Linked DNA regions of Homo sapiens. The protein of the gene in region 2 purifies or fractionates together with the protein of the main gene of each other region. This does not show direct contact. Each region holds a gene or a part of one and is shown on either strand. Other genes may lie near its edges. The genes, in order: XRCC4, HSDL2 and PIN4.

What was found.
Region 1: the proteins of HSDL2 (region 2) and XRCC4 purify together in Homo sapiens (affinity purification with mass spectrometry, with the first as the bait; one large-scale study listed by BioGRID). This does not show direct contact.
Region 3: the proteins of HSDL2 (region 2) and PIN4 fractionate together in Homo sapiens (co-fractionation; one large-scale study listed by BioGRID). This does not show direct contact.

The regions. Positions count from the first base shown.
Region 1 is NC_000005.10:83,108,482-83,112,137, reverse strand, and holds part of XRCC4 (DNA repair protein XRCC4), read right to left. Parts: intron 1,111-3,656; coding exon 935-1,110; intron 1-934.
Region 2 is NC_000009.12:112,383,026-112,386,681, reverse strand, and holds part of HSDL2 (hydroxysteroid dehydrogenase-like protein 2), read right to left. Parts: intron 1-3,656. UniProt on the Homo sapiens protein: Has apparently no steroid dehydrogenase activity. Controls bile acid (BA) and lipid metabolism in response to nutritional cues.
Region 3 is NC_000023.11:72,195,141-72,198,796, reverse strand, and holds the end of PIN4 (peptidyl-prolyl cis-trans isomerase NIMA-interacting 4), read right to left. Parts: intron 2,013-3,656; coding exon 1,893-2,012; intron 1,430-1,892; coding exon 1,271-1,429; 3' UTR 457-1,270; downstream 1-456.

The DNA.
Region 1 (3,656 bases), on a different chromosome or scaffold from region 2:
TTAAATATAAATTACTAAGGGTAGTTTCTCTGCATTATTCCCTACACGATAATATAAATTTATAATGACTCCATTTGTTTCTACAAATGTTTATCTAATTAATGAAATCTCTTTAATTATTCCAAATTTAAAAGGTTGATTTAAAAGAATTTCCTAAACTCAGTTGAGCACTAAAACAAATTCTCAATACATTTCTGTTAACTTAATGTAGCAAACATTTCCTTCCCTCTCCTTCAGAAATGATAGATCTCATATATGACTGAAAACCACTGGTTAAAAAAACAAATTCAGTATCTATTAAACTTAGGTAAAATATACAAATAATTAGTGCCAGACTTTAATAAATAAACCACCTGCCTTGATCTGAATTGGTGCAGGAACTGAGCAGAATAAGTAGCAGATACTCTTGTTTGCAAAGCTTAGGCTTCAAGTTATTTCTATTTTAATATTTTTAAATCTGACAATATAAAGTATCCTTAATACTTACTATGCATTTTTCAATTTCAAATATACTCTAGTAAAGTAGAAAATAAGTCATAATTATTCTATATTCAAAGATATATTTTGATTGATTTTATTTCTTAAAATCAATATTTCACAAAACTTTTTTCAATAAGACCTGTCACGATGGCCTAAAACTTCTGATCTCACCTTTTTCAAGATTATTCTTTTGTATAATTAACTCTGTAATACTTTAAAATTTTTCAAGCATTAAAAACTAAACACATTTTCCAATATTTATTTTTCATGATTCATTAATATATTTAATGACTTTAGCTTTGAAGTATTCTTCTAATTTGGAAACCAAGTACTTTTCAAGCTTTTGCTTCTGAGGTGTTCTGGGAATAATATAGTAGTCACTTAAATTTAAATATAATTCCTCAATAAATGCTCTGACATTTTACTATGTAACATTTTGGAAAGTTTTACTTACTGAGACATCTTTCAGGTTTTTCTCAAAGAAGAAATAACAAGACTCTTTAGAAAAATTAAACGTGTATACATCAGCTGGTCCTGCTCCTGACAACAATGCTTTTCTCAGTTCACCAACATATTTCCCTTTTTCCATTGCCATGTCATCAGCTTCTTGGGAAATCTCTGATTCAGAAACTATGGGAAATATTAACAAAAGTTTTAAAATGAAAAGTAAATGACTACACATGAGAAAATATTAGTTTATCTGTTAGTACTAATTTATCACATGTAACAGAAATTCAAACAAGTAAAATCAATCCCTATACTACACATTTTTAAATCAAATTATTCCTTTTTACTGAACTAGCAATTTTTGAGAAATGCATTAATTTAGACTCACATCTCGTAAAATACATTAAACCCTTGACATTCTTTCTCTGTCTTCAGATGAAACGCATTGTAAATTATTACAGAAACTCCCACTTTGTGTAACTGCTCTTAGGTCAAAGCCAGATAATTTCCTACAATGAATAATAAGTTCAGTATTTTATAACATCTTTCTTCCTTGCATCAAAGATTCAATAGCCTATACTGTGTTTCTCACTCATATGGGCAGAGTAAAACAAAAGCAAAAGTGGAGCTCACTATTCTCATATCATGTGCCAACAACAGAAAATATGGATGAAAGGAGATGATAAGGAAATAATAGGAAGGAAACTAAAATGTACGAGCATCTCCTCTGCAACACATACTATACTAGAGACCGCTTCCAATTCTCTTATCTAGGTATTTTTAAAGCTGATGTTTTACTATCATTGAGATTTTTGTTTCAATAATTATATTTTCAATTCTAGATATTATCTTTGTTCCTTTGTCATTATATCCTGTTCTTATCCTACCCTTCTTTTAAATATTTAAATAAACGTATTTTAAGATCTCTTTCATTTCTGTATTTATGTGTGGCTCCTGGGGTATAAATTATGTTTCTTCTATCTGTGGAAAAATTCTTGTTTTACTTGTTTTCCTTTCATGCTTTGTAACATTTGAGTACAGCTCACCTCTAGCCAAAGTGGCAAGTGCTCTGGGAAGAAGTGGTCTTAAATGAAGGTTGCCTTTCTGGGGGTCATTACAAGTTTTATCAGTTTGGGACTAGTTTTGAAAGTTAATTTCTCACCTCGATTTTTACATTTGAGGCAAAGTGTTCCATTTTAAACCTCCCATCCACACATAACACAGGTTTAGGGTTCTGATTTTTCTTGAGACTTTTATTCACTCATAGTCCTTAGGGATTGTTCTGTTTTTATGCTGCATCCTCTGGACAGAGAGTAGTAGTTTTTTTAAAAGATTATTTTATTAACAGCATATATTTTCCAGGTTCCTTTCTTTATGCTGAGAGCTCAACTCCAATTCCCTAAGAGGTCTGAAGCCTCAACATTCTACCTCACTCAAACATTATACTCACTGTCATCTAGAAGTATATCTAGTTCAGATATTCCATGAATCTACAAGTAAGCTTTAATTCTCATCAATTACTTTGGTTTTGAAATACCTCTTCAAACATGGTGTCTGAGGTTTTCCCTTTCTTACACTCAAAAGTGGCAATGGGTCTGCATACTTGTTTGTTTTTAAAATTACAAGATTCAATCTCGTTATTTGTTGGAATGTGTGTGTGGTTGGATGGTTTCCTGTGTTAATTTAGGCTATCACAGTAATGATAAAAGTCTCATATGGTTGTATAATTTCATACTTATGCATTACACTTATCTATTTTAATTCCTTATAAAACTGAAAAACAGATATTATTTTCATTTTGCAAAAGAGAAAACTGAGGCTCACAGAGATCAAGTAATGGTCTAGGGTGATGAAGTAAGTAACTAGTGAAGCTGGGATTAATACTCATATCTCTCTGCATGTTTTATTTTGAGGTGAAGCAGAGACATGAAACATTGGATAAATTATTTCCATCCATAATTTTGAAAAACAACATTAGTATAAAATATTACAGAATATAAGGAAATCATGATTAAAGAATCCCTAAAATGGAACACACATTTTCATACCTTTGGTCTCTATGCTATCAAGTGTCTGGAAGACCCATGACAGTTAATGAAAAAGGGAGTCTTGCAAGGTACCAATATTTTTATATGATCAATTTTTGATAACAAGTTTTGATAATAAAATATGATTCTCATACGTCACACAACCTTTGGAAGGAGGTAAGAATAAAAATAGCTTATATTCATATATTAACAGCTTCTAAAACACTTTCACATTTTCTCTATTGGAAGTGGACACATTTAATATGATCATCACTATCAAACCTATTGATCTTTCAAATGCCCTAGTAGCTCTTCTAAAAAAAAAAAAAGAAGAAGATAAATGCTTCCTATTTAAGGAATAATTTCATATTTTGTGTTTGCATTATGTTAAAAAGTAACTATCTAACTTTAACTCACCAATACCTAGGAAGAACAGTTATTTCACAGAGAAATAGGAAATAAATTTGTAGATGCCATCTTTAATGCGGCCATAGAAAAACTTGAAGAAAACACAAAAGAAAACAGAGAACATCTATTTAAAAAGCATCTAGTTAAAAGTATTCTAAATTTCATTAAAATGAAAAGATACCTGTCTGAAAATATGTAATCATTCATTCATTCCAAAAATGCTAGCCTGTGGAGCTCAAATTCAAGTGCTAATATCTTAGACAACATTTTAGATATCTGTCAGTTATCATCCTA
Region 2 (3,656 bases):
CTCCTGAATAGCTAGGATCACGGGTGTGCATCACCACGCTTGGTTAATTTTTATTTTTTTTTGGTAGAGACAGAGTCTTACTGTGCTGCCCAGGGTGGTCTTGAACTCCTGGGCTCAAGCGATTCTCCCACCTTGGCCTCTCAAAATGCTGGGATTACAGGCATGAGCCACCATGCCAAGCTCAAAATTATTTTTATTTGTTGACTTTTATATATAGCAATTTTCTTAAACTTTTATTAATTATAATAATTCAGTTATACATTATTTTGGTTTTCTGTGCAGGATAATATCATCGGCAAATAACGACAGCATTATTTATTTCATTATAATCCAAATACTTTTTCTTCCTGTCTTACACCTTATTTACTAAAGGTTACACTTCAGTCAGAAGAAAAGTGTTTCCAGATGGAAGGTCTGAAATTCAAGAAAATAGGAAAATCAAAGATATTGGTAAATAAGTACAGAAATCTTGTTTAGAAAGAGTACAATAATAATAAAATAATACTTGTGGGGTTAAAAAAGAGAATTAAAATATATTATTACAAACCAGCCTGGGCAACATAGTGAGACCCCACCTTTACCAAAAAAATATTTTTTTAATTAGTTGAGGCCTAGGCATGGTGGTTCATGCCTGTAATCACAACACTTTGGGAGGCTGAGGTGGGTGGATTGCTTGGGCCCAAGTTTGAGACCAGCCTAGGCAACATAGCAAGACCATGTTACTATTTAAAAAAAAAAAATTAAATTAAAAAAATTGGCCGGGCATGGTGCCTAACACCTGTAATCCCAGCTCTTTGGGAGGCCGAGGTGGGCAGATCACCTGAAGTCAGCTCAAGACCAGCCTGGCCAACATGGTGAAACCCCGTCTCTACTAAAAAATACAAAAATTGGCCAGGCACAGTGGCTTACGCCTGTAATCCGAGCACTTTGGGAGGCTGAGGTGGGCGGATCACAAGGTCAGGAGTTTGAGACCAGCCTGACCAACATGGTGAAACTCCATCTCTACTAAAAATACAAAAAAAAAAAAATCGGCCAGGCGTGGTGGCAGGTGCCTGTAATCTCAGCTACTCGGGAGGCTGAAGCAGAATTGCTTGAACCCTGGAAGTGGAGGCTGCAGTGAGCTGAGATCGCGCCACTGCACTCCAGCCTGGGCGACAGTGCAAGATTCTGTCAAAAAAAAAAAAAATTAGCCAGGTGTGGTGGTGCATGCCTGTAATTCCAGCTACTCTGGACGCTGAGGCAGGAGAATCGCTTGAACCCAAGAGGCAGAGGTTGCAGTGAGCCTAGATCGCGCCACTGCACTCCATCCTGGGCGACAGAGCAAGACTCCATCTCAAAAAAATAAATAAATAAATAAAACTTAAAAACTTTTAAAAAAGAAGTCTGATCTCTTACCTATAGGTGACCAGCTTCATTAATTTCTGGCCTATCATTTTTGTACTTTTTTCAAACATAAGCAAACATATATATATATAAAACACTCTATGTATGTGAAAAACTATCCCTTCCTTTTTTCATACAAAAGGTAGTATACATAAAATATTAAAGTGGTTCTGTTGTTGTTGTTGTTGTGTTTTTCTTTTGACAGTCTTGCACAAGTTTTTCACTACTGCAAGCAAGGCTGTAGACAGGTCGTGGTGACCTAGCCTGCAGAAATGAACTCCAGACACCCCTGAGCAAGGTTAAAAGACGAAAAACAATTTCCTTTACTGTCTCTCTTGTACTATTAGTTATGACTATGTTTGCCAATGCTTGTATTTAGTAAGATTTGCAAAGTTCCTGTTTTTCTTTCGATGCAGCTGCTAGGCCACTAGCTATGCAAGGCCACAGGTTAGTGCCAGGTCAGCAGTTATGCTATGGATTACGTGATTTGTCACTGTAAAATTTACTGCCTTTGTTTTGATCTTGTATGCTGGCCTATATAAGCTAAACTCTGTTTTTGTTCAAGGCTCAGCTTTTTGGATGTGAATCCACTGAGCCGGTGAGTACCTTAAATAAACATCCTCCTGTCTTCCCAATATCGGTCTCTCTGGTCCTCAGTTTACCACAACAGCCTCAACAGCTCATGGCAGCGTCAACCTCCTGGGCTCAAGTGATTCACCTCAGCTTCCCAAGTAGCTGGGACCACAGGCTAAAGTGATTTTTAATGTAAGTATTTACAAGAAAATGTCCCAACTATTGCTGTAAAAAAAAGCCATATCTCTTTGCTTTGAGTATAGCTTGATTGATTCCCAGTAGGAGAAAGGGCATTTTCTTCCTCACTCAGAGTCTCTGGCATTGGCAGAAAAAAAAGCAAACATAACCCTGATCTGTGCCAGTAAGAAGTCCTCCAGCTCCAAAGCATTAGTACCAGAATATAGAAGGCAAGAGCACTTCAAAGAAGGCTCCAAATTTCTTAGTATTATTGATAGATGGCTAAAACTTGCTGATGAAGAGCTAACTTACAGTTTAATTTACTAAAATTCTCTGGTACCCCAAAATCAGGTAAAAGTACTGAAATTTTTAGTAAAAGGAAGAACAACTGTTTCCAAAAAACTATACAAATTATTCTAAACTTCATTTGGAAAAATAAATACCCAAGTATAACCAGGAAAATTCTGAAAAATAATCCAAATGTGGTGGGAACTAGCTTTCCCACATATTAAAACATTTTGTAAAACTAGAGCAATTAAAATAGTTTGGGCTGGGTAGAGTGGCTCACATCTGTAATCCTAGCACTTCGGGGGCTGAGGCAGGAGGATCACTTGAGCCCAGGAGTTTGAGACCAGCCTGGGCAACAAAGTGAGACTCCTCTACAAAAAAATTTTTTAAAAATAGCCAGGCATTATGGCGCATGTCTATAGTCCCACCTAATTGGGAAGATGAGCTGGGAGGACTGCTTAACCCCAGGAGATCAAGGCTGCAGTGAACTATGATGGTGCCAATGCACCCCAGCCTGGGTGACAGAGCGAGGCCCTGTCTCAATTAATTAATTAAGTAAACAGTCTGGTACTGGTACATGAATAGAGACTAAAGTAGCAGAGCAGAAAGTCCAGAAACAGAGCGCTATATGTGCAAGAATTTAATATACAACAGAGGTAGAATTTCGAGCAGAAGAGAAAAGATTAACTCTTAGGTCAATGCTGCTAGGACAAATGAGCAGCCATCTGAAGAAAAATCAAGTGGGCTTCCTAACTCACTTCCTGAAAGAAATCTCAGGGGGATAAAAAAATCTGACTATAAAAAATATAGACAATACAAATATATTTGAAAAATACAAAAATATAAGACCATAAAAATATCAGAAGAAAACTAATTATAAAAAGATCTGCCCAGGCACGGTGGCTCACACCTGTAATCCCAGCATGTTGGGATGCCGAGTCAGGAGGATTACTTGAGGTCAGGAGTTTGAGACCAGCCTGGCCAACATGGTGAAACTCCATCTCTACTAAAATTACAAAAATTAGCCGGCATGGTGGTGTGCGCCTGTAATCCCAGCTACTTGTGAGGCTAAGGCAGGAGAACCACTTAAACCTGGGAGGCAGAGGTTGCAGTGAAACGAGATCGCACCACTGCACTCAAGCCTGGGCAACAGAGCAAGATTCCATCTCAAAAAAAGAAAGACAGAAAGAAAGATCTCGGTTTAACTCAAAGGCATACAGAGCAAGATTCCATCT
Region 3 (3,656 bases), on a different chromosome or scaffold from region 2:
AGCCTCGAACTCCAAGGCTCAAGTGATCCTCCCACCTTGGCCTCCTAAAATGCTGGGATGATAGGCCTGAGCCACTGTGCCCAGATGAGGTCACTGTATTGATGCTGAACTTAGTGCTGACACCCGATTGGCATAGGACACTACAGCCCAGAACTCCTGGGCTCAAGTGATCCTCCTGCCTCAGCCTCCCAAGTAGCTAAGACTACAGGCGCACACCACTGGGCCCAGCCATAGTTTCATCTTATATCTATTTGAACTTCTCTGTATACACTGGCATATCTGCTCCGTGGGGAAAATCTCATGGAGGCATAACCTACTGAGGTGCTCAGAAACTCTTCTCAAGTGGGAAAGTCAGGTATCTAGGTAAAGTTCCCATTATATAAGTGGGTATAATATCAAATGCAGCTGAGGGAGAGAAGGCAGTGTGTTAAAATAATCTGTTAAGAATCACATAGCTGTGTTGGCAAAGTTTTATTTTTGAAGCAGTATAGTATTTATATTAGTAATCTTTATACTTTTTTATATGTCATAAATATGGCATTTTAAATTTTAAAAATTTAGATGCACAGAACATTGGCCCTGGAAAGGACAGTCTTAATGTAACCCATACACTGAAGATGAGGGAATGACATTTTTATGCTGACATCCCTCCCTTTAACCAGCACTCGGTTAGTCTAGTACAAAACAACTCATGGAACAACTGAGTGCTTTTTTCCTCCAATAAACATTTATTTAAAAAGAAAGGAGTTAACACTGAAAGGCATAACGTGCCACGTACTATGTTAAGACAGTGGAGCTAATACCACCTGTCCTGGAAGATCAGAGTTGACTAACATGTAAAACAAATGTTGTCTAGGAACTTATTTTATGATTCTCACACACTAATCTATTTGATGCCCAATATTTTCAGTTGTGTGAATAGTGTGAGTTGATATCTGCTTCCCCTGAAGATGGTTTCTGAATTAATTTATGGGACAGACTGAGAGTCAGATATAGTTCTGGGAGGAAAGAGAATACAGGTTAAAGGGAGTCTGCTTGACTTCTCTTTGAGAAAGACTGACTGAATACCTACTACAGTTGACATTCACTTAGCCCCACCCTCTCTTACACCTACAAACCCATACTTAGAGCTTTCACAGAATACAAGGAGCATCCAATATCTTTTCTTTTTAAAAATTTTTGTATTTCCTTGCAGCTCCAGCTCAAAAGAATATGTAATACCTTTTAAAGAAACAAAATGTATAAAACTTATTCAGTCTTTCATATGATTTTATTTTCTTCCTTCGACCATAATAATATGATATCCAAATTTTGTCTTAACCGGTGGGTCTGTAAACACAGGCTTATCCATCCCACTTACAGGCAAGGCAAATGCTGCTTCTTGAAATGGTCCCACCATGGACCCTCTGGTCATCCAACCCAAGTCACCCTGAAAAACCCAAAAGATAAGTGATATCAAGTGGCCCAGAAGAGGGAACAGTTCTACTGTAGCTTGAGAGAATTTCCCAACATTTTGCTAAGGTTACGAGGTATATTCCTAAGAGCAATACAGGAATAGGCTCAATAAGGACAAATAGGTAGAAGAAGTCTAACTAGACTGAACACATAAGTACTCTCAACACTGCTGGACTTTGAAGTTAGCCGTGCAAGTTTGGTCATGCATAGGTTTTGACATAGATGACCCTTATTCTACTATTTACAAGTTGGACATTTCTGCTTTTGAGATCTTTAAACCAAAATATCGCTACAACCAATGGTTGAACAAAGGAATGATCCCTACTTCTGTGTTTCTTCTGTGGAGGATGGAGAATTTTTATCTTATTTTATTATTTGTCATTTTTACTTTGCTTTCTTACCTTGAGAGAAAATTATAAATAATAAGAGCAACATACCCCTTGCCTGGCTTTATCTTCACTATACTGTGCGGCCACTTCATTGAATCTCATCCCAGACTTTAACTTTTCCATGGCTTCCATGATTTTGCCATGTTTTTCACATAGAATGTGTCTGACCTGCAAGGAAAAAGTACATTCATGTAATACTTGGAGACCCAAATGACTCCTTAAAGTACAGTGGTTACATTTGGATTACCCCCACCAGTTAAAAAAAAAACACATTAGTTCATAGCAAGTAAAAATCCTGGAAGTTTGCCCAGGACAACAACCACAATCCCATTCCCCATATTAAGACAATGTCTCAGAGTCCTGATTTAGATGGAAAATAGGCACCTGGCTGTGGGAAGCTCCGCCTTTTTTTTTTTTTTGAGAAGGAGTCTTGCTCTGTCACCTAGGCTGAAGTGCAGTGGTGTGATCTCGGCTCACTGCAACCTCTGCCTCCCGGGTTCAAGCAATTCTCCTGTCTCAGCCTCCTGAATAGCTGGGTTTACAGCTATGTGCCATCACACCTGGCTAATTTTTGTATTTTTAGTAGAGATGGGGTTTCTCCATGTTGGCCAGGCTGGTCTTGAACTCCTGACCTCGTGATCCACCCGCCTTGGCCTCCCAAAGTGCTGGGATTACAGGCGTGAGCCGCCGCTCACGGCCGGGAAGCTCCCATCTTTTACCATATACCTTCATGCTAACAGGAGGAGGAAACACGATACGGGTTGAGAGCTGTGGTCCTAGAATCAAATCCCAACTCTGCTGTATGAACTTAGGCTTTATTTATTTATTTATTTAGAGACGGAGTCTCACTCTGTCTCCCAGGCTGGAGTGCAGTGGTGTGCTCTCAGCTCACTGCAACCTCTGCCTCCCGGGTTCAAGCAATTCTCTTGCCTTAGCCTCCCGAGTAGCTGGGATTACAGGCACCCATTACCACGCCCAGCTAATTTTTGTATTTTTAGTAGAGATGGTGTTTCACCACGTTGGCCAGGCCGGTCTTGAACCCCTGACCTCAAGTGATCTGCCCGCCTCGGCCTCCCAAAGTGCTAGGATTACAGGCGTCAGCCACCATGCCTGGCTGAACTTACGCATGTTTTTAAACCTCCAAGTGTTTCTCCATTTGTACATCAAGATGCAATGATAACGGGACCTATGTGTTCTCATAGGATTGTGAAGATTGAGATAATGCAGCTACCATTGACCAACGGCTAGCTATTATTTCATCAGAGTGAGGATAAGAAAAAACCTGCTAGAAAGTATTTCTATCTTTTTTTTTGAGACAGAGTCTCCGTCTGTTGCCCAGGCTGGAGTGCAGTGGCCCGATCTTGGCTCACTGCAACCTCCACCCACGGGTTCAAGCAATTCTCCTGCCTCAGCCTCCCAAGTAGCTGGGACTATAGGTGCGCACCACCACGCCCAGCTAACTTTTTGTATTTTTAGTAGAGATGGGTTTCACTGTGTTGGCCAGGCTGGTCTCAAATTCCTGGCCTAAAGTGATCTGCCCACCTCAGCTCCCAAAGTGCTGGGATTACAGGTGTCAGCACACCGTGCCTGGCCAGGAAGTATTTCTTACTAAAAGAGACCCAATGTATAAGCCTCCCCACAATTCCACACTTTGAAAAGGTATCATAGGTTGAATATTAAGAACGCCCAACCCTACTGAAGTATTCAAATTTGACCTATGTTTACATAAAGCCATGGATTTAAAAAAACACTATTATCCTTGAAAATGATTTTGTCAAGATAGCTGTTTCGCAGGATTTCTCATTTCACATT